7 linked regions of the Homo sapiens genome follow. The protein of the gene in region 1 interacts with the protein of each later gene in a pairwise test. Each region holds a gene or a part of one and is shown in the gene's direction. Other genes may lie near its edges.

Evidence for each region.
Region 2: the proteins of MEOX1 (region 1) and PM20D2 interact in binary tests that used the Homo sapiens proteins (3 or more experiments, as listed by UniProt).
Region 3: the proteins of MEOX1 (region 1) and INPP5J interact in binary tests that used the Homo sapiens proteins (3 or more experiments, as listed by UniProt).
Region 4: the proteins of MEOX1 (region 1) and TXNL4B interact in binary tests that used the Homo sapiens proteins (3 or more experiments, as listed by UniProt).
Region 5: the proteins of MEOX1 (region 1) and HOMER3 interact in binary tests that used the Homo sapiens proteins (3 or more experiments, as listed by UniProt).
Region 6: the proteins of MEOX1 (region 1) and CACNB3 interact in binary tests that used the Homo sapiens proteins (3 or more experiments, as listed by UniProt).
Region 7: the proteins of MEOX1 (region 1) and MEF2A interact in binary tests that used the Homo sapiens proteins (3 or more experiments, as listed by UniProt).

What each region holds. Positions count from the first base shown.
Region 1 is NC_000017.11:43,639,889-43,642,405, reverse strand, and holds the end of MEOX1 (homeobox protein MOX-1), read left to right. Parts: intron 1-373; coding exon 374-496; 3' UTR 497-2,017; downstream 2,018-2,517. UniProt on the Homo sapiens protein: Mesodermal transcription factor that plays a key role in somitogenesis and is specifically required for sclerotome development. Required for maintenance of the sclerotome polarity and formation of the cranio-cervical joints.
Region 2 is NC_000006.12:89,152,555-89,156,054, forward strand, and holds part of PM20D2 (xaa-Arg dipeptidase), read left to right. Parts: intron 1-488; coding exon 489-631; exon of another isoform or gene 632-635; intron 636-2,193; coding exon 2,194-2,348; intron 2,349-3,500. UniProt on the Homo sapiens protein: Catalyzes the peptide bond hydrolysis in dipeptides having basic amino acids lysine, ornithine or arginine at C-terminus. Postulated to function in a metabolite repair mechanism by eliminating alternate dipeptide by-products formed during carnosine synthesis.
Region 3 is NC_000022.11:31,125,966-31,129,465, forward strand, and holds part of INPP5J (phosphatidylinositol 4,5-bisphosphate 5-phosphatase A), read left to right. Parts: coding exon 1-45; intron 46-328; exon of another isoform or gene 329-410; coding exon 411-524; intron 525-647; coding exon 648-756; intron 757-955; coding exon 956-1,072; intron 1,073-1,391; coding exon 1,392-1,567; intron 1,568-1,809; exon of another isoform or gene 1,810-1,985; coding exon 1,986-2,097; intron 2,098-2,248; coding exon 2,249-2,358; intron 2,359-2,505; coding exon 2,506-2,689; intron 2,690-3,500. UniProt on the Homo sapiens protein: Inositol 5-phosphatase, which converts inositol 1,4,5-trisphosphate to inositol 1,4-bisphosphate.
Region 4 is NC_000016.10:72,087,489-72,090,620, reverse strand, and holds part of TXNL4B (thioredoxin-like protein 4B), read left to right. Parts: coding exon 1-3; intron 4-443; exon of another isoform or gene 444-532; intron 533-1,482; coding exon 1,483-1,634; intron 1,635-3,132. UniProt on the Homo sapiens protein: Essential role in pre-mRNA splicing. Required in cell cycle progression for S/G(2) transition.
Region 5 is NC_000019.10:18,931,218-18,934,717, reverse strand, and holds part of HOMER3 (homer protein homolog 3), read left to right. Parts: intron 1-307; coding exon 308-415; intron 416-1,672; coding exon 1,673-1,794; intron 1,795-2,585; coding exon 2,586-2,742; intron 2,743-3,092; coding exon 3,093-3,209; intron 3,210-3,306; coding exon 3,307-3,393; intron 3,394-3,500. UniProt on the Homo sapiens protein: Postsynaptic density scaffolding protein. Binds and cross-links cytoplasmic regions of GRM1, GRM5, ITPR1, DNM3, RYR1, RYR2, SHANK1 and SHANK3.
Region 6 is NC_000012.12:48,817,260-48,821,295, forward strand, and holds the start of CACNB3 (voltage-dependent L-type calcium channel subunit beta-3), read left to right. Parts: upstream 1-1,236; 5' UTR 1,237-1,670; coding exon 1,671-1,715; intron 1,716-1,786; exon of another isoform or gene 1,787-2,683; intron 2,684-4,036. UniProt on the Homo sapiens protein: Regulatory subunit of the voltage-gated calcium channel that gives rise to L-type calcium currents. Increases CACNA1B peak calcium current and shifts the voltage dependencies of channel activation and inactivation.
Region 7 is NC_000015.10:99,708,984-99,712,483, forward strand, and holds part of MEF2A (myocyte-specific enhancer factor 2A), read left to right. Parts: intron 1-1,650; coding exon 1,651-1,777; intron 1,778-3,406; coding exon 3,407-3,500. UniProt on the Homo sapiens protein: Transcriptional activator which binds specifically to the MEF2 element, 5'-YTA[AT](4)TAR-3', found in numerous muscle-specific genes. Also involved in the activation of numerous growth factor- and stress-induced genes.

The sequences.
Region 1 (2,517 bases):
GTGCTCTATAAATGTGCCTAAGGATAAGGCTGATGACCTCTGCTCCCAGACCCTTGGGGAATGGAGGTAGGGGGCAGGGGGACCTGGCACAGGCAGGGCAGGGCATGTGAAGGGGGTGGGGCCAATGCAGAGTGCTTTTAGAACATGTTCCCCCGTCTGGGGCTTTATCCGAAGCCACAAGACAGACCTCTGGGCAGATTGGTATGTCCTCTCTTCGGTCCTAGTTCCTGGGGCCTTTGAGGGAGTAGGGAGTGGTAAGTGATGGTTTCAAGCTGGGGTCCCTGGAGTTACACCCTGGCTAGCCTAAGCATTGACATGGGGAGGAGGTCACACCGGCCCTGGAGTGACCAGGCTCCTTTGCTTCCTCCCCCAGGTCAAAGTGTGGTTCCAGAACCGAAGGATGAAGTGGAAGCGTGTGAAGGGAGGTCAGCCCATCTCCCCCAATGGGCAGGACCCTGAGGATGGGGACTCCACAGCCTCTCCAAGTTCAGAGTGAGATTCTGCATGGAGGAAAAATGACTAAGGACTGAGCCCCCTACCCAACTACCCCCACCCCAATCCCACCTTCACCCTCTTCCTTCCCCAGCCAGGGCAGCCTCTCCACATCTTTCCCTGACTCTTGGATATGAAACTGCCCAGCATTCCTGGGAGTCTTAGGATTTTCTAGGAAGTTCTGTCCAGCCTCTTAGCAGCCTCTTCCCTAGGGCCTTTGCTCCCACACTCTCATGGAATCAGACAGAGATCCTACCGGGCCGGATGAATCTGGAAACAGCTTCAGAGATACTGCTTCTCAGCGTCTCTTGGCTGCCACCCATGCCTCCTCCTACCGCTGTTCTCCTAGGTCAGCCAGGCCTCCTCCTGGTCTGGACACCACCTGGCCTGGTGGGAGAGGAGCTTTGGAACCAGCTGGCGACTCGGAAAGTAAATGCTTCAAAAGGAAGGAAATGACAGAGACACACGCCCTTGCCCACCTTCCTCTGTAGGCTGCACATCTGAGGCTTTGGGGCCCCTTAGTTGTCCCGAAACCCCAAGAAAAATCAGAATGAGGAGAGTCAAGGACAGCAACTCAGCTGCTGCAAGCCAGAAACACATCCCTGTCTCCAAATTTGTTGGCTAAGTGGAGACACTTCTGAGAACTGACTAGAGAAGACAGAAAAATAGCCCGATGTAGGTTTCGGTGTCCCCATATAGGCCCGTCCACACAGGCTTGACTGGGTGGACAAGAATGAACCCATGACAGCACCTGCTGCTTCAAAATCAAAATCAATTTAGGGATACAGCAGGGGCTGTTGGGCTGTGCTCCAGAGAAAAGGAGCAGCTACTCCTTTTAAATCCACGATTTCTGGATTGAAAACCTGTCCAGATGCTGAGTTGTTGGGCTGAACAACTAGGAGCTGAAAACAACGTAGAGGCTGGAAAGTGTCCCCTGCATTCTGGAGGGGAGGGGAGATAATAAGGAGGGCTGCTGGGTGAGGGCCTGGAGATGTGGAACCCTGGAGTGGAAGGTTCTCCAGTGACAGTGTCCTGTGACTGCAAAAGGGGACAAGAAAATCCCTCTTCCTCCATGGGATGGATTTAAGCTCTTGCTGTGTGTTCTACAAATGCTGTTATTGTGGGAGGAAATGCTAGGTTTTTGTGTGTGGACTGCCCAGACCTCAGCCAGGTCTTCTGGAGATGACATTTGAGGACTGATGGCCAAAGAGCATGGGGGACTGAAGCCCTGGCTGCCTCAGCGCTCTGTCTCCCAACACCAGCTGGTGTTGCAGAGGGAGGTCAACGTGAGTTTGGATCTCTTGTACGCAGATGTAATCATTCACATGTAAAAATAACCCCACCTCCCCACCCCAAAAAGGGCAAGAGCTGTGGAAAATGATTGCCAAATGAGATGGCTGGTTAGAGCATGATTTTTTCTAAAGCATACTTCATATATTTTCTTAAGATTACATCAAGCTAATTGTGCGAGCTCAATTCACTTTGTAAGAAAACTCTCGGAGAAATAAAATCAATAAAAAGCAAAGTTCCCAGGCCTTTTTCTTTGCAGAGCGAACAACCACAGCTCTTGTGTGCAACCTTCTGATTGACCAGACAATGTCTAGAAGCAAGAGAAAAAGGGAAGAAATGATCTAGACAGAGCTGTCCCCCTTTAGTTTTTCAAAAGGTGGGTACAAAATATAATTGGTGCCAAAAAAAAATTTTTCTCCAATGCAAATGCATGGTCTTCATTTCTCATTGTAAAAGTTTAGCTTTCAGTTTCCCTAAACTATGACCTATCAAATAGTCAATGTTTTATAAACAAAAGATGAACTCTTTTGTTAATAAAGGAATCTTGACCACAAAGTAACCATCCCTAATGTTTAAATTCAAAGTTTGGAGATTTTATTTTTCAAGGTAGAAAAATGTATATTAATAGTAGTAAAAAATGACATAAGAAAAAATATCCCATATTTTGTCTTTTTTTTTTTTTTTTTTTTGAGACAGAGTTTCGCTCTTGTTGCCCAGGCTGGAGAGCAATGTCTT
Region 2 (3,500 bases), on another chromosome or scaffold:
GGTATCTTGTGATAACATTGAATATAATCTGATTTTCAGAGGTTGTCTTAACCCACTTCAAATAGTAACTCCTTTCTGGCTTTCCTGACCTTCCACCTCTTAAGACAGAATTTCTGATTTTTTACAGACTTTTGATAATAGAATCATCACAATGCTGTGTAAAAACATACAGGATCCATTTTTTTTTTTTGTAATTTCAGCACCTGATACCATATTGCATGTTTGCATTAGATTGTGTATACATTTAATCTTTTCTCTTTTTCTCTCTTTTTTGGGAATGCTTTCTTTGTGTCAAGCACTATGTTACCTAATAATAAACTATAACTAACATAAATAAATTGCAGTGTTATTACTACAAATAATTTGCAAATCAAAAGTCCAGCAATGTGAATTAATTTTGAATAGTAGTTGGGTAATTCTGACTACCTGGATTTTCTTACTTTAGCAATAATAACAAAAGTAATTTCAAATGATTTTTTATTTCCTAGTGTGACTGTGAAATACTATGGAAAAGCATCTCATTCTGCTTCTTATCCCTGGGAAGGATTAAATGCATTAGATGCTGCTGTGCTGGCCTATAACAATCTGTCTGTGTTCAGACAGCAAATGAAACCAACCTGGAGAGTTCATGGTATGAATGTCAAATACCTTCTATAATAGATGGTGCTTGCTATAGTTCAGTGCAGTATAATTATTTAATATTCAATTTTTAAAAATTTGGAAATATTTTTGTACTTCATATGAATATTCTGATTTTTAAGCATATTTTCAGAAATTCATGTGACAGGATACTAAGATGTTTGTCTATATAGGGTTAGAAAGACAGTTTTGATTATTGTACATAAATGGAATGTCATCTTTGAGTATCAAAGATAAAGGTTTTATGTAAGGGGCTGTGTTCTTTCGGTGGGTGTTTGAAAATTGGATCTTGATTTTCCAGTTGTCCTCATTATTTCTTAATGATAACCAAATTTTGTCAATTAAAAAAAGGTATAATAACTGCTAGTTTTATTTAAGTGCTGTTAGTCCTGAGTAATATCTTTTTGTGTGATTTTTTGTTTTTGAGACAGTCTTGCTCTATTGCCCAGGCTGGAGTGCAGTGGTGCAATCTCGGCTCACTGCAACTTCTGCTTCCTGGGTTCAAGTGATGCTCCTGCTTCAGCCTCCCAAATAGCTGGGATTACAGGCAGGCAGACACCACCAAACCCAGCTAATATTTGTATTTTTTGCAGAGACGGGGTCTTGCTATGTTGGCCAGGCTGGTCTCAAACTCCTGGCCTTAAGTGATCTGCCCACCTCAGCCTCCCAAAGTGCTGGGATTACAGGTGTGAGCCACCATGCCTGGTCCTGAATAGTGTCTTTTAAAATTATATATATATATCACCATAATATAAATACAGTCAAAGTACTGTCTTGAAGGCACACATTTGTTTAATTTATTTCCTTATGATTTAGGAAATTGTTATATTTTAATATCTATTCTTTACCTGATTTTGCTATAGCCTGAGGTCAATTTGTAATTGTACTTTTACCAGTTTTCCTGCTTTAGTTTCTTTAAAAGGAACAAACAGGAATGTGTAGAAATATTTTTTTAAAGTAGGTCATAGGACATTGGATTTTTTGTATCTATTTTAGTTATTACTTCGAATGAATAAATCTTAATTCTTTATAATTCCAAATAAATACATTTGTTTTGACAGTTGATAATACTTAGTGATCTTTGACCTGCATTGGTTTTTTTCTTGGCATGAAAATTATTTTTCCTATAGCTAAATGCCATTTAAAATGCTCATGGGATTCCTGAGGTATGAGGGTAATTATAGAACCTCATACCATTGTTGAGGTATGGTAAAATCTTTTCCAGAAAGCTTAAGATGTTACTAATTTTTTTTGTGGTTATATAATTTCTAAGTTTCATTATAGTCTGGATCATAATTTCTTAACATTATGTAAATTCTTCTGAATGAAGTGCATATGGATAATTATTTTTTCTTATCAGCCAAAAAATATCACCCTATGTAAAGAAATTTCAGTTGTACAACATAACAAAATCTTTGATTGGTGTATTGGTGGAGCTAGTGAGTTTAAATTATTTTTCTTTATGAACATATTGGCTGAAAAACTTAATGGGTGTATTTAAGCTTAAAGAAATGGTCACCAAGCTTAATTCTAGTAATTTGGTTCTTTTTATAGGTATAATAAAAAATGGTGGTGTAAAACCCAATATCATTCCCTCTTATTCTGAATTAATCTATTACTTCCGTGCACCCTCAATGAAAGAACTTCAAGTTTTGACCAAAAAGGCAGAAGATTGCTTCAGAGCTGCAGCTTTGGCTTCAGGGTGCACAGTAAGAACTTTTAAAAGTTAATCTAAGTTACAATCAGAGGTATATATGTGGGCTAGCACTGTTAGATTGAAATCTAACTTGACTCTCTTATTTGGTGACATGTTGAATATGCAAAATGAATTGGCTGAATAGTTAATGTGAAAGTCTTTAATTTTTACACGTTTCATTCCTCAGTGCTTGCAATAGGGAAGATGACAGGTCATCTTACTTATATAGTAATTAGAATAATTCTGATACTTCTATGCTAGAATCCCTGCCTTTTTACAAGTTATATTCTTCCTTGTCGGCAGTTATACTTTTAGAATTGCTATATGTAGTTTCTATAAAGGAAAGTTTATGGCAAAATCAGCAAAAGCTTTTTTTTTTTTTTTTTTTTTTTTTTTGGTGGGGGGACAGGGTGTTGCTCTATTGCCCAGGCTGGAGTTGCAGCGGCACGATCTTGGCTCACTACAACCTCCGCCTTCCAGGCTGAAGCAATCCTCTCACCTCTGCCTCCCACCTCAGCCAGCTGAGTAGCTGGGACTACAGGCACGCACCACCACACGTGGCTAATTTTTTGTATGTTTTTCTGGAGACAGGGTCTCACCATGTTGCCCAGGCTGGTCTCAAACTCCTGAGCTCAAGTGATCCACCCACCTCGGCCTTCTAAAGTGCTGGGATTATAGGCATGAACCACCTCGCCCAGCCAGCGAAAGCCATTTCTGAAGTTAGGGTGTGTATAGTAGTGATATAAATACTATGGCTTGCTGGAATGGAAGATAAAATAGACACAGAAGTTAGTTAAGAGGTTTTATTGATTTGTTTCTGTTTGTTTGTTTGTTTTTGAGACAAAGTCTTGCTCTATTGCCCAGGCTGGAGCGCAGTGGTGCAATTTTGGCTCAACGCAACCTCCTCTGCCTCCTGGGTTCAAGCGATTCTTATGCCTCAGCCTTCCAAGTAGCTGGGACTACAGGCGCTTGCCACCACACCTGGCTAATTTTTTTTTTTCTTTTTTTTTTTTGAGGCGGAGTCTTGCCCTGTCACCCAGGCTGGAGTGCAATGGCGCAATCTCAGCTCACTGCAACCTCTGCCTCCCAGGTTCAAACAATTCTCCTGCCTCAGCCTCCTGAGTAGCTGGGATTACAGGCGCCTGCCTCCACACCCAGCTATTTT
Region 3 (3,500 bases), on another chromosome or scaffold:
CCCTTGGTCAGCTCAGCCTACCTGGAAGAGCGACCCCGGCTTCCGGTGAGGGGGCCCTCTCCCAAGAAAGGTGGCTGGGGCTTAGCTCTGAGGTTAGCCATTCTTCCAGGGTGGATGGTGTGCTCTACCTCAGCTTCTCTCTCTGAGGAAGAGTCTTTGGGGAGGGGGTTGCTGGGCCCACTCTGTGACGCTCAGAAGATAGCATCCCCTCCTAAGGAACTTGCCGCCTCTCAGTTGATCTCCCCAGGGAGAGTGTGGCAGAGGGACAGGATTCGGGGCCTCCTGTGGGTCCTTCTTAGGGCTTTGGCCCACACCTGCCTCCATTTAGTTCCCCAGGGAGTCCTGTGAAAGGAAGCTTGAGGGTGAGGGAGTGGTGCCAGGACTACACCCTCATATGCCCCTGCCCTCAGGATCACTGTGGTCACATGGAACGTGGGCACTGCCATGCCCCCAGACGATGTCACATCCCTCCTCCACCTGGGCGGTGGTGACGACAGCGACGGCGCAGACATGATCGCCATAGGGTGAGGTGGCAGGGCATGTGGACCCCCTCCTGAGCCCCTCGGGCCTTCCGGGCCCTCCACCCATGGCAGGGGCTTCCAGGGCACCTCTCCAATCCCATGGCCACCCTGCCCCCACCCCTCCAGGTTGCAGGAAGTGAACTCCATGCTCAACAAGCGACTCAAGGACGCCCTCTTCACGGACCAGTGGAGTGAGCTGTTCATGGATGCGCTAGGGCCCTTCAACTTCGTGCTGGTAACGCACCCCTCACCCCCTGGACAGCCAGAGACCCTGCTGAATTCCTGGCTCCAGCTGTACCCTGGCTCACTGTGGGGCCCGCTGGGCCTCTGTGGCTGGGTCCGTGACATGGGTGGGTGGAGGAGCAGACCTGAAGGTGGGCGCGAGGGCGGGGGAGTTGTGTTCTGTCCCCCAGCCACGTGGCCTCCCGCTGCAGGTGAGTTCGGTGAGGATGCAGGGTGTCATCCTGCTGCTGTTCGCCAAGTACTACCACCTGCCCTTCCTGCGAGACGTGCAGACCGACTGCACGCGCACTGGCCTGGGCGGCTACTGGGTGAGCCTGTGAGCAGGCCCAGAAGAGGATGGGACATGAAGGGGGCTTTAGATTAGTCCCCCCGCCCCATGCACAGCAAGGTCCCCTTCCCATCCTCCACCCTTTACCCTGCGGCCCAGCCCCCCCATGCACCACCCAATACCCCATCCTATTCCTCTATACCCCCGCCCTTTTCTCTCCCCACTGTGTCCCAGCGTTGTTCCTCATTTCTGTAGGACCCACCCACCTTCCACCCACATCTCCTCTCTAACCCCCGCTCCCAGTGCCTCACCTCCTGGCCTAAGCCCCGCCCATGAGCCATCCGACCCTGCCTCCCTAGGGTAACAAGGGTGGCGTGAGCGTGCGCCTGGCGGCCTTCGGGCACATGCTCTGCTTCCTGAACTGCCACTTGCCTGCGCATATGGACAAGGCGGAGCAGCGCAAAGACAACTTCCAGACCATCCTCAGCCTCCAGCAGTTCCAAGGGCCGGGCGCACAGGGCATCCTGGATCATGAGTATGGGCTGGGGTGGGGCCAAATAGAGCTTGGGTGGGGCTAGTGATGGGGGTTTTTGTACCACCTTGGGTGGGGCTTATGGAGAGAGGCAGGGCCTATGGGGTTTAGTGCCCACCCAAACTAGTTGTAGGAACACGAAAGCAGAGAGCAGTTGGATGGGGAGGGGCGGAGCTTGTAGGGTGGAGCTTTGCTGAGGGGCCCCGCCTTGCTGAAGGTCAGAACCTAATTTCCTGTAGACCGGTCCCTCTGCTTTTCCTCTGCCCTTTGGTGGGCTGGAGGCTCTGGCACCACTCACCCACTCACTACATCCCCTCGGGTTGGATGGGCTGGAAGGATCTGGGCTGAGCCCTTATCCTCCATGGACCTGTTGACACCCCCCACTGCCCCCCACATCTCTCCCATCCCCCACCCCAAACAGCCTCGTGTTCTGGTTCGGGGACCTGAACTTCCGCATTGAGAGCTATGACCTGCACTTTGTCAAGTTTGCCATCGACAGTGACCAGCTCCATCAGCTCTGGGAGAAGGACCAGGTGGGGTCCTTGTCCCCAGAAGCACACAGAGCATGTCCCAGGACACGCCTGTACCTTAGACTATGGTCCCTGTCCTCACCTGCCCCACCCCCTCCCTGGGCACAGCAGAGCCCAAGCTGTTGTCCAATCTGCTCTCCTGGACCCCCCACAGCTCAACATGGCCAAGAACACCTGGCCCATTCTGAAGGGCTTTCAGGAGGGGCCCCTCAACTTCGCTCCCACCTTCAAGTTTGATGTGGGTACCAACAAATACGATACCAGGTGAGCTCAGTCCGAGGAGGGACTGAGGGGAAGTGGGCTGAGGTCTTCTCGAACAGGGAGACTTTGGGAAGAGGGGCAGGAGGCAAGGTGGAGGGTTACATCTTGATCCCCAGCCCCTGAAACTTGGGGTACCCCTGCTCACTGCAGTGCCAAGAAACGGAAGCCAGCTTGGACAGACCGTATCCTATGGAAGGTCAAGGCTCCAGGTGGGGGTCCCAGCCCCTCAGGACGGAAGAGCCACCGACTCCAGGTGACGCAGCACAGCTACCGCAGCCACATGGAATACACAGTCAGCGACCACAAGCCTGTGGCTGCCCAGTTCCTCCTGCAGGTGAGTTCTGGCCTCATCCTCCCCGCATGAAATCCCCAGGCCCAACTCGGCATACCACTGCCCCTCACCATTACCCTTTGTATAACCCCTTGTACCTGCCCTCAGCAGCATCCATTTGTTGTAACAGTGGAAATGGGGTTGCAATCTACATTTTCAGATGAGGAAGCTGAGGCTCAGACACATGGCATCACCTGCCCAGGGTCACCCAACTAGTAAGAGGAACAGTTAGGATTTGAACCCAAGTGAGTCTGGTTTCAGAGCCCATGCCTTTTCTTTTTTTTTTTTTTTTTTTTTTTGAGACAGAGTCTCATTCTGTCACCCAGGCTGGAGTGCAGTGGCACGATCTTAGCTCACTGCAAGCTCCGCCTCCCGGGTTCAAGTGATTCTCCTGCCTCAGCCTCCTGAGTAGCTGGGATTACATCACCCGCCACCACGCCAGGCTAATTTTTGTATTTTTAGTGGAGACAGGGTTTCACCATGTTGGCCAGGCTGGTCTTGAACTCCTGACCTCCTGATCCACCCACCTTGGCCTCCCAAAGTGCTGGGATTACAGGCGTGAGCTACCGTGTCTGGCCAACTTTTTTTTTTTTTTTTTTTTTCTTTGAGACGGAGTCTTGCTCAGCCGCCCCAGGCTGGAGTGCAGTGGCACAATCTTGGCTCACTGCAACCACCATCTCCTGGGTCCAAGCGATTCTCCCGTCTCAGCCTCCCAAGTAGCTGGGATTACAGGCACCCGCCGTCATGCCCGGCTAATTTTTGTATTTTAGTAGAGACAGGGTTTCACCGTGTTGGCCAGGCTGGTCTTGAACTG
Region 4 (3,132 bases), on another chromosome or scaffold:
ATTGTAAGTGAATGTCTAAAATAATTGGTTTTTATTAATAATCTGTATATTCTCACTTCAGCATCTGAGTAGTACATGAGAGGGAGTAGTCAGGGTTGGGTATATAGCTGTTCATTTGTTAGTTCACTAAGAGCTGATTGTGTGCCTGCCCTGAACCAAGCCCCCAAATCTGTGTGTGCTGAATCTGTCTTGGATGTCCTTACCCACTAGAAGCTGTCAATGCTGTTTCACCAACAAGGTGATGGAAGAGCAGAAAACTATTAACAAGCATCTGTGAACACTATCTTTTCAGTGCTCGCAATAGTGGGATAATAGTAGCCCCATTTCCCAGTAGGAAAAAAAAAACCAGAGAGGTCAAGTAATTTCCCACAGGTGCAGATCCACTATATTGCAGAGTTGAGATTTGAACTCAGTTTTCTGTAGCTGCAAATAATCTTTTCTAGTGTGCTGCCTCCAGTATGTGCCTGATGCAGAGAGAGACCTAACCCAGAACTAAGACCTCTTACCGCCATTTCTACTGCTACCATCCCGTGTAAGAGCTGAGCGTACAAATCCTCATTTCCGTGGTTACAATGAGGGTGTGATGTGTTAGCTTGGGGAAAAAAGGACCAGAGGATTCTACCCTCAGTCATAAGCAGGAGGAAATACCACAGAGGTCAGTGATGTAGACACTGAAGCCACACTGCCAAAGTTCAAACCCCAGCCCTACTGCTCAGGAGCTGTGTGACCTGGGGCAAATTACTTTACCTTCCTGTGCCTCAGTTTCCCTATCTATAAAATGGGGACTCTGATAGCATATACCTTATAAGAATGATGTAAGGATTAAATGAGTTAACAAATGTTAAGCACTTAGGACAGTTACCACATAGTAATGTTATATAAGTGTCTGCTACTAATTATCGTGGTTTTCATTTCTGGGAGGATTGGGAGGAAGGAGACGTTAGGGAATTTCAGTATCCACATAACATATTTCTAAGTTGTGTTGTTTTAAATGAGCATGGGCTACTTTTATAAAAGCATTCAAAGAAAGAAATTAAAGGAAGAAATAGATTCACACAGTTTTCCCCAAGGATTTGTATGCTCAGCTCTTAACACGGGATGGCAGCAGTAGAAATGGCGGGTAGAGGTCTTAGTTCTGGGTTAGGTCTCTCTCCACAATGAATAGACAGGAATACTCCCATGCTGTCACCCTCCTAAACTCACACAGTTTTCCCCAAGGTCCCCTTCTAACCTCACACAGTTTTCCCCAAGGTCCCTTCCTAACCTCATACAGTTTTCCCCAAGATTCCCTCCTAACCCCGTTGCAGTGAATGAGACTCTGGAGGATGGGGTTATGCTTTGTCTAATGTGGGAGCCACATGGGCTGCATTGTTGGCCCAGGAGTTTTTTCAAACAAAACACTCTGTTGTAGTAACAAGTTTCACAGAAGAAACATTAAGCTGCCTCTCATATTGTAACCTTTGTCTCTCTCGTCATTTGCAGCTTTCTAAGACCTCTTCTGACTTAAGTAAAATGGCTGCTATATACCTGGTAGATGTGGACCAAACTGCAGTTTATACACAGTATTTTGACATCAGTTATATTCCATCTACTGTCTTTTTCTTCAATGGGCAGCATATGAAAGTGGATTATGGGTAAGTGCAGTTGATCTGAAGTTAATTGCAACCTTGTAAGTTTCCTTGGTAAGCATTTTCAGTAGCTTGCCTATTTCCATGTGATGTTGGCTCTGTGAGTCTTATATCAGTACTGTTTCCCCAATTGACGCACTCTCTAATTTTTTATGCAAAACCTTGCTACAAAATGAGAGTGCTTCTGGTATGATTGTCAAATTTTATTTATTTTTTTAATAGTGCATACACATGGTTTGTCAAATTTTAATTTCCGACTTAAGTATGAAGAAATAGTACAGGTGGCAAAGCACTACCATCCATAAGTCTATAAAATATAAAATAGCCATATTAGCTAAATAAAGAACTCTTAAAATTTTCCCAGGAATTTCATTTGAAACAAAACATGTAGTTTTTCTTAAGCTTTTGGACTGGTAAGTGGCATTTATGAAAGAAACATTCCTTCTAGCAAACTAAGATGTGCTTCTCTCTTGCAAAGTTTCCTGCTTTTCGCCATTGAATTTTAAATCATTCTTCAACAAAGCCTGTCAAGAATAAGTAACATGATGTCCTCTTTAGTGCCTTCCACTCCATCCAATTACCATCTCAATACTTAATATTGATGATTGGGTGCATCCATGATTCTGATCATTTCTTACTGTGGTTGATGTGTCCACTTATCTAGATCTGTGTACCCTTTTTGTCTTTATTTGAAAGTATGTGAAATATTATCTGTTTTAAAGTGTTTTAGGCTGGGCATAGTGGCTCACGCCTGTAATCCCAGCACTTTGGGAGGCCAAGGCAGGCGGATCATTTGAGGTCAGGAGTTCAAAACCAGCATGGCCAACATAGTGAAACCCCATCTCTACTAAAAATACAAAAATTAGCCAGGCATGGCCAGGCGCAGTGGCTCACGCGTGTAATCCCAGCACTTTGGGAAGCCGAGGCAGGCAGATTATGAGGTCAGCAGATCGAGACCATCCTGGCTAACACAGTGAAACCCTGTCTCTACTAAAAATACAAAAAATTAGCTGGGCGTGGTGGCGGGCGCATGTAGTCCCGGCTACTCTGGAGGCTGAGGCAGAAAAATGGCATGAACCCAGGAGGCGGAGCTTGCAGTGAGCCGAGAGCGCGCCACTGCACTCCATCCTGGGCAACAGAGCTGCCGTCTCAAAAAAAAGATTAGCCAGGCATGATGGTGGGTGCCTGTAATCCCAACTACTCAGGAGGCTGAGGCAGGAGATTCGCTTGAGCCCAGGAGGTGGAGGTTGCAGTGAGCAGAGAACGCACCACTACACTCCAGTCTGGTGACAGAGCAAGGCTCCATCGCAAAACAACAACAACAACAACAAAAAAAAAACACAAAAGTATTTTAAAGCTGTTTATTCTACTGGAACACATTTGATGTAAGTATTAATTTGGTACAACCTTTTATGGGGGCCAGTTCAACATTATGTATCAAATAGTTTAAAGTTTTTAAACTTTTTAACCCAGTAATTACACTTCCAGGACTTTAATATGATGT
Region 5 (3,500 bases), on another chromosome or scaffold:
TGAGCCGAGATCATGCCACTGTACTGCAGCCTGGGTGACAAAGTGAGACCCTTTCCTAAAAAGAGGACATGGGAATTCCTTTCCCTTTCTCAATGTGGCCCAATGTATTTAAATGCCACCTCTGTGATCTGATGCCACCTGCCCACCCACCATGGTACATCATTTTTCAAAGTTTCTCTCCTTCTTCCAAGGTGTGTGATAAGGGGATGGGTACGGTTCGAAAGTGGCGGGGCTGTCACTGAGTGATGGTGACCTGTTTGGGAGGATGGGCTGGGGTTTTACTGTCTTTTCCTCCCCACTCCCTTAGTTTGCCGAGAAGTTCCAGGAAGTGAAGGAAGCAGCCAGGCTGGCCAGGGAGAAATCTCAGGATGGCGGGGAGCTCACCAGTCCAGCCCTGGGGCTCGCCTCCCACCAGGTCAGCACTCCCTACTCCCCTATGCCTGCCTGGGCACCTGTGAGTCAGCCAGGCGCTCAACTGATATTGGGGGACCTTGATATTGGGAGACCGGGGCACTCTGCTGGTCGTCAAGACCCAATGCTTCCAGATGACCTAAGGTTAGACCCACAGCAGGGACCACAGAGGAGTGGTGTGGAGTGTGTCATAGAGGGTCTGGACCTTGCCTGGGGCCGGTGGGGTACACCCAGTAGGTCCCAGTAGCAAAACCAGCTCAGATGGCAGGATGGAAGACTAGAAATTGAAATGGCTAAGTGTGGCCGGGTGCGGTGGCTCACGCCTGTAATCCCAGCAATTTGGGAGGCTGAGGAGGGAGGATGACTTGAGGCCAAGAGTTCGAGACCAGCCTGGCCAACATGGTGATACTCCACCTCTGCTAAAAAATACAAAAATTAGCCAGGCGTGGTGGCATGCGCCTGTAGTCCCAGCTACTCGGGAGGCTGAGGCAGGAGAATCGCTTGAACCCAGGAGATGGAGGTTGCAGTGAGCCGAGATCGTGCCACTGCACTCCAGCCTGGGTGACAGAGTGTGACTCTGTCTCAAAAAAAAAAAGAAAGAAAGAAATGGCTAAGTGTGAGGCAGAACAACGAACTGTCCCTGCGTGTTTTCCCACATTAATTTATTCAGCATTATTTATTGAGCACCTGCTGTGTACCAGGCCGAGGGCTGTGCACAGGGGTTGGAGAGATGAAAAAAAGCATGAGCCTCCAGCTGCTGCCTGCACTGGGCTGCGGTGGCGCTGGCCTCTCGCAGGGCACCCGCCAGCTTGTCTACCCTCAGAGCCAGTGGTCCAGGCAGTGGGGTTGCTCACGAAACACGAATTCGGCCTGGGCAGGGCTTCCTGCTGAAATCCTAAACGTGATGTTGAAGTTCGGCCTCAGGGAAGGGAACAGCAGGGAGGTGTCCGATTGTACCCCTCCCCTACCTTACAGGTTCTAAGTATCTTGGTTTAGACTAACCTGCATCAGACTTGCTCCTGGGGGTGGTGAAAGCCCAGGAAGGCAAGGTCGAGGGCGTGGGCATGGAACTCCCAGCTTAGGGGCCACAGGGAGCCATGGAGGGTGGGTGAGGTGGGGAGGGACACACTTGGATCCTGTGCTGTGAAGGACCTGCTTAGGGTGCATAGGTCAATTGCACCCCCGATGTGACGACCCCAGTCACATCAGCCTTGATCCCAGCTGATGTGGGGTCGTGACCTATTCTTTTCCCCGTGCCTAGGTGCCCCCGAGCCCTCTCGTCAGTGCCAACGGCCCCGGCGAGGAAAAACTGTTCCGCAGCCAGAGCGCTGATGCCCCCGGCCCCACAGAGCGCGAGCGGCTAAAGAAGATGTTGTCTGAGGGGTGAGGGGCGGGACTTGGGGGCGTGGCAGGGGCGGGGGTAGGGGTGGGGGACGAGGAGGCGGTTCTTGGAAGCCAAGGGAGTGCCAGGACGGCGGGATCTAACTGTGGACTCAAGACCTGGGGAAGGGGATGAGGATCTGAATGCTGCCCCATCCAGAGCCGACCCCGCCCCTACCCTGCGTTGGCCACGCCCCTCTGTTTTGACCCCATCCCTGTCTCTTCTCGCTGCTAACCTCGCCCCGTCGATGCCTCTCTGGTCTTAGGATAACCACCCTGACCACGCCCCCATCGGCTGACTCTCCCCAACCTCCCATCCCTCCCTCAACATTCCCACAGTGTCACTGGGCGGACTCCACGTGCCCCCTTCTTTGACTCGGTCCTCGACAAGACCCCGCTTCTGCGGGACTGCCCCATCCCCAAGCTCAGCAATCAGTGTCGCCACATCCCCAGCCCTGCGTGGCCCTGACTCCGTGCCCTAGCCCAAAGCCACCCCTCCTCTGGCCCCGCCCCCTAGCCCAGCATCGCCCGTGACTCCGCCTCAGCCCAGCGCCACCCACCCTGGCCCCGCCCCCTAACCGAGCATTGCCGCTGACTCCGCCCCCAGCCCAGTGCCACTCCACCCCTGCCCCGCCCCCTAGTCCAACTTCGCGCACGACTCCGCACCCTCGCCAGCCTTCGCCCTGACCTAAGCCCAGAGCTATCCCACCCCTGGCCCCGCCCCCTAGCCCAGCATCGCCCGACTCCGCCCCCCAGCCCCGTGTCACCCACTGCCGACCCTCGTGTCTCTGCAGCTCCGTGGGCGAGGTACAGTGGGAGGCCGAGTTTTTCGCACTGCAGGACAGCAACAACAAGCTGGCAGGCGCCCTGCGAGAGGCCAACGCCGCCGCAGCCCAGTGGAGGCAGCAGCTGGAGGCTCAGCGTGCAGAGGCCGAGCGGCTGCGGCAGCGGGTGAGGGCACCCCTCCCTCCGAGAGACCCCCACCTGGCCCGGGCAACTGTGGAGACCGCGCCTCGGCAGTTCCCATCTGCCCTGGGTTCATGGACTAGCTGTGTGACCTCAGCAGGTCACTGACCCAGCCTCAGTTTCTTGCTCTGTAAAATGGGTTTGAGACAATGCCAGCCTCAGAGGGTGATCAGACACTAAAGTCCAAGCTGTGCAGAGGGGGGTGGTGGCACCAACCAAGGGAGATGGGTGCTCGGTCCTGGGCGTGGCCAGACAGGAGGCAGATTCCCTAGAGGTTGGGCGAGCAAGGGAGAGTGCAGGCGGGGGCGTCAGGGGCTGCTATTCCTGCCCTACAGGTGGCTGAGCTGGAGGCTCAGGCAGCTTCAGAGGTGACCCCCACCGGTGAGAAGGAGGGGCTGGGCCAGGGCCAGTCGCTGGAACAGCTGGAAGCTCTGGTGCAAACCAAGGACCAGGTGAGTGCCAAGTGTGGTTCCTGGGCCTCGCCTTCCCTCACCTCCTGTGGGAAAGCCAGGACCCCCGCAACAGACCCTGGGAACTCTTCTCCTCTAGGAGATTCAGACCCTGAAGAGTCAGACTGGGGGGCCCCGCGAGGCCCTGGAGGCTGCCGAGCGTGAGGAGACTCAGCAGAAGGTGCAGGTGTGTGTGGGCACAAGGAGGTGGGGTGACGGTGGGTGACAGTCACCTCAACAGACACTCAGGACAATATCTACCTAAGATGATAAAGTATTGGGAGGCCCAGTCCT
Region 6 (4,036 bases), on another chromosome or scaffold:
GGTGGGAAGCCACTTGGTTTGGGTGGGCTTTCTCTCTCCCATGCACAGTGCTTTCTACCATAGATCTTACTAAGCCATGTCAGAGTTTTGGATTTCTGATTCTCCTCAAGCCAAGGAGGGATGAGCAGATTGCTGAACTCCCGGGTGTGAGAAATTGGGAAGGAAAAGGACTGAGCTCAGGGCCAAGAGCATGGGCACCAGGAGGCCTCCAAGTGTAACCCCTGTCTACGCACATCCTCCTCGTGGGGCACAAAGGTAGGCAGTCAAAAATCAAAGAAGGAATTTTGCTCAGGAGATGAAAAAAGGAAAGAGCTCAAATGGGTGGATCTTTGGGGAAAGTTTCCTCAAGATAAGGGCTGCGGCTCTCTTACCCCAAATCTCAATGCTCCTGTAAAGGAGACTGAGTGGTGCAGAGTGGTACAAGCCCTTCTGCTAAGGGGAGAATCTGGCCTTACCCTAGTGACTCCGAGGAGACTGGCCCTTTCCTCTCCCAACCCGAGTGTAGCCAGGATCCCACCCACAACTATCCCCCTACCTCCACCCTCTGGCTTCTTTCCCCTTCCCTTTAGGCTCACCTAAAACAGCCCCTTTCTGCCCCAGTTCCCACGGATGCCTTGGCACTGTCTGGCACAATCCTTGGCAGGGAAGTGGGGAAGGGAACCCCCATCCTGGCAGGACTAAGACAAAATCTATCCGTGCAACAGGTGTGGGGAGGCCTACCCAGCTCACGGAAAGTTCCCCCCTTCTCAAGGGTTGGGCAACACCGCCTTTGCCGCAGCGTCCCCGTACTGAGGGGGCCGGGCACCTGTTGGGGCAGGAGCTGCCGTCCTGTCATTAGCCTGGGGGCACCAAGCCCATTCCTCCCCGGGACCACTGCGGGGTTTGCTTTCGGAGCCTCCGGGACGCACGGGCCCAGACCCGCCCTGCTGTCGCCTGGGACCCCTCCCCCGTCTGCCGCTCGTTCCCGCGCCTCTTCTGTCTCCCACGGTCTCCCCATTTTCCTGTCCTCTCCGTCCTCCCTCTGCCTCTCTCTCTCCGGTTTCCTCGACACCTGCGCCCTCTCCAGTCTCCGCCCGGGTCGCGTCTCCCTCGCGGTCTCAGCGCCCCCTCCCTCCCCCGCCGCAGCCCTTTGTTTCCCGGCGGAGTAGTTCCTGGGTTGCCGAGCGTCTCTGTCTCCGCATCTCTCCTCGCCCCGCCTCCTCCCTGCCTGGATCCGCCCTGCCCGCAGCCTCTCCTCCCCTTCCTCCCCGCCGCCACGGCCCCGTAGGTGCTCGGGGACCCACCTTCCACCTAGCACGGGTTCGTTCCCCTCTCCCGGCCTGGCCCGGGCTCCCCGGTGGCCGCCGCCCCCTCGCCGCCCCCGCCTTCTCCCGGGGAGGGGGTCAGGTGGGCGGGCACTATTGTTGTAGGAGCCGGCGCCAGATTCCTCAGCCGCGCTCGGGGTGGGACCGGCTGGGTTTGGGGGGGTGGGGTGGGGGGAGCGGTGATCTGAGCTCCGAGCAGCTGGTCTTCGCGGCTCGCTCCCTCCTTCGCGCTCTCTCGCTCCCTGCCGCCGCCCGCAGGGCTGCGGGGCTCGGTGGCATCTCCCGGGCGCGGCCCGCAGTCCTTGCCCCTGCCTCCGGGCCGCTCCCGCCCCCGGCGCCGCTCGCTCCCCCGACCCGGACTCCCCCATGTATGACGACTCCTACGTGCCCGGGTTTGAGGACTCGGAGGCGGTGAGTGCCCACGATGAGGGTGGGGGCGGGGAAGTTGGGGTGACACCTCCTCTCCCTTCAACCCTTTCCCCGGTTCAGGACTTTGAAAAACGCCTCAGTGGCAGGGCAGGGTTTGTAGGGGGGCGCTCTAAGAACGTGGGGAGATGGATTTTCATGCCAAGCGTTCCCCAGCGACCCAGACTCAGACCCTGGGGCATCGGGTGTGTGCAGAGAGGGGGCAGTATAGGGGAAGGGCTCAAGCAGGTGGCTCCACGGCCCAGGAAAGAGGGGTGGGAGAAGGCAGGGCTGGAGGCCGAGGGCACAGAGGCTCTGGAGAGGGAACACGCCATGTCTGGAGTTCCAAATTCTGGATTTCTGGGGTCTGAACACAACAGCTAGGAGAGCCGCCGAGGTGGTTGGGGAGGCAGACATTCTAGACCTCTTGTGCCTCAAGCAAACGACACATCAGGGAGCTGAGAGGACATCAGGGAGCCAGGGGCCAACCTCTTCAGACAGACGGATCCTAAAACTTGAGGAGCTCCATTATTCCCTTCCACCCCCTCCATCTCTGCGCATTGCCTCATCTCCTCACCCTTTCTCTAGCCCAGTTTCTCTCCCAGGCTGAAACCTGGGCGCCCAGCACATGGGTAGGCCAGGTGACTGAGCCCCATCTATTCCACAGCCCCCTGCTGAGGCTTCCTCTGCAGCGGGCATCCTGAGCTCTTGCCCAGCATGGAGGGCCTGGAGGTGAGGCCAGAGGAGCTGAGGGCCTGGGGATGGAGAGGAAGCGCTTTGCTCAGAGAAACAGGCAACCGATAAATATTTAATTCTCCTCTTTGCTTTTATCTCCTGACCCACTGAGACAAATCAGCTCATTAAGCAGTGATTCCCGGAGCTCAGACAGCAGGGAGAGTGCCTGGAAAGATGGGGCAAGAATGCGGAGCAGCTTCTCAGCCCCTTGGAGCTGACAACTTTCCCTCAAATGTCCTGTAAGAAGGCCTCCTTAGGAGTGGACCACTAGATGGCTTGGAAGGGGCCCCAATAGGTTGGAGCACCCCTGGGTCGGAAAGAGGAGTTCATGTTCAAGTCTTCTCCCATCACTTACTGCCAGGCCCAGGATAGATGAATGCTGATGTTCAGAATAGGCAACTGTCCTTTTCTGGGACTGGTCTCCTTCTGGGCCCAATTCTCCATGGGGCCTCTGGGGCTAATTACATTGCCGCTAGATCAGATCATTTTCAAGGCTCTGGTGGACACCTCTTTCTGACAGTTGAAGGGACAGCTGGTATAGCCCAGGGTGCCAAGGTGAGCTTGAAAACAAACCTCTCTGTGGGGCTGGATGGCCCTAGGAGGTTCTTCCCATCCCTGGTGAGAAGGCAAGGGCTATTGCAAGGAGCAGACTGACATGTGGATGGTGTTGGAGGGCAGCCTGCTGACCCATTGCTCCCTCCCATCTCTCTCTGGCTCTGATCACCCTCCCCCACTTCCCTTTCTCTTGCCTGGCTCCTTGCTCTCCCTGAGGCCCCCTCTGAAGCAGTAGGAGGGAGATCAGGCTCTAAATAAATCCAACGGCTCATCTCCCTCCTCTCCTTCCCCCGTGCCAGGCAAGAGAGGAGCTGCAGCCTGCCCACACACTCACTAGGCAAGGGGGGCACCACCAGGGCACTGTGCCAACTCCTGGCAGCTCCAAAGTACTGAAACTCTGGCTATTTTGGCGTAGCAGGGTACAGGAAAGGTAAGACCCTAGATCATGCTTGGCAGGGCAGCCCTGGCCTCCCCAAGTAATACTGGAGCACTAGAGATGAGTGAGCCTGGAGGACTTGGGAGTAATGGAGAGGGGGTTCCATTCTGAGCACAACTCATTAAATATTTAGGAAGAGATCCTGTGATTCCCATCCCAGGGTGAGAGGTCAGGTAAGCCAGATGCCTCAGGCGTTATGATTACTAAATTAGGCCGCCAGCGGTGCCTCACACCTGTAATCCCAGCACTTTGGGTGGCCGAGGTAGATCACTTGAGGTCAGGAGTTGGAGACCAGCCTGGCCAATATGGTGAAACCCTGTGTCTACTAAAAATATAAAAATTAGCCCAGCATGGTGGCACATGCCTGTAGTCCCAACTACTCAGGAGGCTGGGGCAGTAGAATTGCTTGAACCCGGGAGGCAGAGGTTGCAGTGAGCCGACATCGCACCATTACATTCCAGCCTGGGCATCACAGTGAAACTCCATCTCAAAAAAAAAAAAAAAATTACTAAATTAAACCAGGCATAGAGACTCATGCCTATAATCCCAATGCTTTGGGAGGCTAAGGTAGGAAGATGGCTTAAGCCCAGGAGTTTGAGAC
Region 7 (3,500 bases), on another chromosome or scaffold:
AGAGCATTGGGGAGCCATAAAAAACTTTTGAAGTAGAGGAGTGCCATGACCATATTTGTTATTTTAAAAAGATGTCTTTGCTGTATATAGGGTTAAAAGGCAATGCCAGGAAGCCACATCAGAGGCTACTGTAGTGGTCCAAGCAATGGGTGCTGATAGCATAGACTAGAGAGGTGGCAGTAGAGATGGTGAGACCTGGGCAGGCTTGAGAGAGAGCAGATAGAATTGCTCAGACCTGGAAATTGATGTTGGGAGTGAGAGGGAAGGGAAGTAGCAAGGATAACACCCATGGGCTTCTGCACGAGCTGCTGGGTGCATGTTGGTGCCATGTACTAAGAGTACTTAAGGAGGAACAGGTTTGCAGGAAAGGATGGGCCATGTCAGATGTGTGGCGTTTGGAGTGGCGTCCAAATGGACATGGCACTAGGTCGTTTAAAAGATCTAGAGGTCGAAGGAGACTGTGGGCCGGAGGGAGCACTGGGGAAGGCGTCAGTGTGACGGGTCCTTGCCCCAGCCCATGGGAGTGTATAGAATGACAAGGGCAGAGTCAGGACAGCCCTGAGCACCAGCTGTGTCGCTTCAACTCCGTTCCTTTTTTAAAATGTTAATTCACTAGGAAGACCAATTTCTTTAAACACCTCTCTTGAGACATGAGAAAGAAGATAAAAGTAGAAGAGTTTTGCCACCTCTCTTTGGAACCAAGTGAGAAAGACAAGTGTTAATGATGAGCTGAAATAACTCCCCGTGTGAGTGATAACTAACGTCCTAAATCTTGGTCCCAGTGATTACGACTGAAGCATTCATATGATATGAGCTGGGTATACTCTAGGACACCGAGTTTTTTCATGAAGTTGAAACTCTTGCATGCTGTCAGGGAGTTTGCGACAGTCTAGGTACTTTAAACAAATGCGCTTACTAATTGTGTAATGATGTCACTGAGCTTGGCACCCCATGTAGGGATTCTGTCTTTCCTGTCCCCTATTCCCTGTCCCCCAACCCCTTGCTTCATTAAGACTTGCTGATTCAAACTCACTCTGGTTGAGGTTGAGTGTTTCTCTTTGTTCCAAAGGGTAGTGGCAGGCATATTTAAAGTAACAATTGTACAGAACACTCTTTAATGATGGCCTCTTATTTGAATCATCCCAGACAAAGAAATATTGCTAGATCCTGTAAATCTTCCAAGAAAAGATTTTGCGGATTTTAGACCCACATGTATGTTGTTTTGTTGTGAAGTATCTGGCTTCTCTCAATGTAGGAACTTTTTATTTTATTTTTTTTTGAGAGGAAGTCTGTTGCCCAGGCTGGATGGAGTGCAGTGGTGCTACCTCGGCTCACTGCAGCCTCTGCCTCCCGGGTTCAAGCAGTTCTCCTGCCTCAGCCTCCCAAGTAGCTGGGACTACAGGCATGCGCCACCACGCCTGGATAATTTTTGTATTTTTAGCAGATACGGGGTTTCACCATGTTGTCCAGGCTGGTCTCAAACTCCTGACCTCAAGTGATCCGCCCATCTTGGCCTCCCAAAGTGCTGGGATTACTGGCATGAGCCAGCATGGCTGGCCTCAATGTAGGAACTTTTGCAGTAGCTACGTAAAAAATAGATTCCGTATGGACCTTCCATCATATGCAGAGCCCTCTTGTCTTCCTTTGTAGATTATTCACTGACCAGCGCTGACCTGTCAGCCCTTCAAGGCTTCAACTCGCCAGGAATGCTGTCGCTGGGACAGGTGTCGGCCTGGCAGCAGCACCACCTAGGACAAGCAGCCCTCAGCTCTCTTGTGTGAGTAACTAGAAGTTTTCCCTGCATCTTTACTCCTGGCCTACACACTCTCTTTTCCTATCAGTGACAGCCTTTTGCTCTGTTGAGTTTCGTGTGAGGAATCCTGTAATGATTCCTTTTCAGGTAGATACAAGTGTCGGGAGAAAATATTTTCTTACATGGCTCTAGACAGTAGCTTGGATACTGACAAACTAGGCATTCCTTGAAGGGATTTGGGGAGCAAGGCTTCTCCCATAGGGACATCCTGAGGTAGAGAGACTCAACCAGGATCTGAAGGGGTCTGAAGGCACAGATACCACCCGCATGCACCATCCTTCTGCCCTCTGACCAGTGATGAAGCTGCCTACTGCACCCCTGCTCCCAAGCACCTGCCTCTGGCTGCACTGCTTGAAAGGCAGCCTGTAGGCATTCAGGCCTCCCTGCCACCCTTGCCATTGACTGCTTTGGTGAGTATCTGTAGACAAGAATAGGAAGACAAGCTGGAGCTTTTGCTTTCTCCCTGGGCCACAGGGAAGGAAAACTGGGGACAGGGTGTCTTATATATCAGTCAGGCTCCATAGGATTTGTGTGACTGATCCCAGCCCAATGCACACACCAAACCTCATTCACAAAGAGAATGTTCCGTATGGGCAGGGTGTAAGGATATAAGCAAAGAGGATTTACAGTGGCGCCCAGATGAGGCCAGACATCCCTGACAGCCGGGAGAAAGAACAGGGCTTTTGTGGAACCAGGATGACAGCAGACCCATGGAGCAGTTGGAGGAGAGTGTCCCAAGAGAGGGGACAACATAGCAGACCCAGCTGGCCTCCATGAAGACTGGCTGCCTTGCCTGTGCTCTGGGCAGTAGGAATACCCCAGGCCCCTAGCCTCTGCCCAGGAAGTCCCCAGAGAGCCTGAGCTCAGCAGTCCCTTTCCCTCATCCATTCTGAAGTAACTGCACAGTGAGGATTGTTGTCAGTGGTCTTCTTAGGAATTATGTCATGGAAAAAGCAGCAGAGTATCTCAGGGAAATTTGCCTACACAGGATTTGGCCCTCAGGCCTGTCCTGAGCATCCTAAATGAATGCACTAAAAATAGTCCTGGAAAAGCAAGTGGAAAGGGCTCAGAGCCCAGGCCCGGGGAACAGCCTGTTTGCGTCCTCCTCTACTGCTCTCAGCCAGCCCCTCATTTCCTCATCTGGAAAATGGGGATGGTGCGACTTGCACCTTAGAGGTGTTGCGAGGATGAGCGATGTTGTGCCCTGTCACAGGGCCAGAGCAGATGGGGAGCAGATGCTGAGGAAGAAGAGGCGGTGAGCAGATGAGGCTGCTGTTCCTCTGTCTTTCTGGTCCCTGCACAGCATTAAGACACTGACATTGTTTTGTATACTTTAGCTGCAAAAGTACCAACGTTGTGGGTAACAGAACCAAGTAACGTAAGGGCTCAACGGTACTGTTTTCTTTCCTCCTAGGAAGATGGGATTTCCTTTTGTGCCAAGCACTGAAGGAAACGACCCAAACCAGTCTTGGGGAACTCTGATAAGATTTCAGACTCTGGGCCCTTTTCCATCAGGCAGTGTCTCTACTGTATCATCCCAGTTTTGCAGAGGTACTTGCAAGCCATCTGACCTCTCTCTTTTTTTTCCTTCAGTGCTGGAGGGCAGTTATCTCAGGGTTCCAATTTATCCATTAATACCAACCAAAACATCAGCATCAAGTCCGAACCGATTTCACCTCCTCGGGAT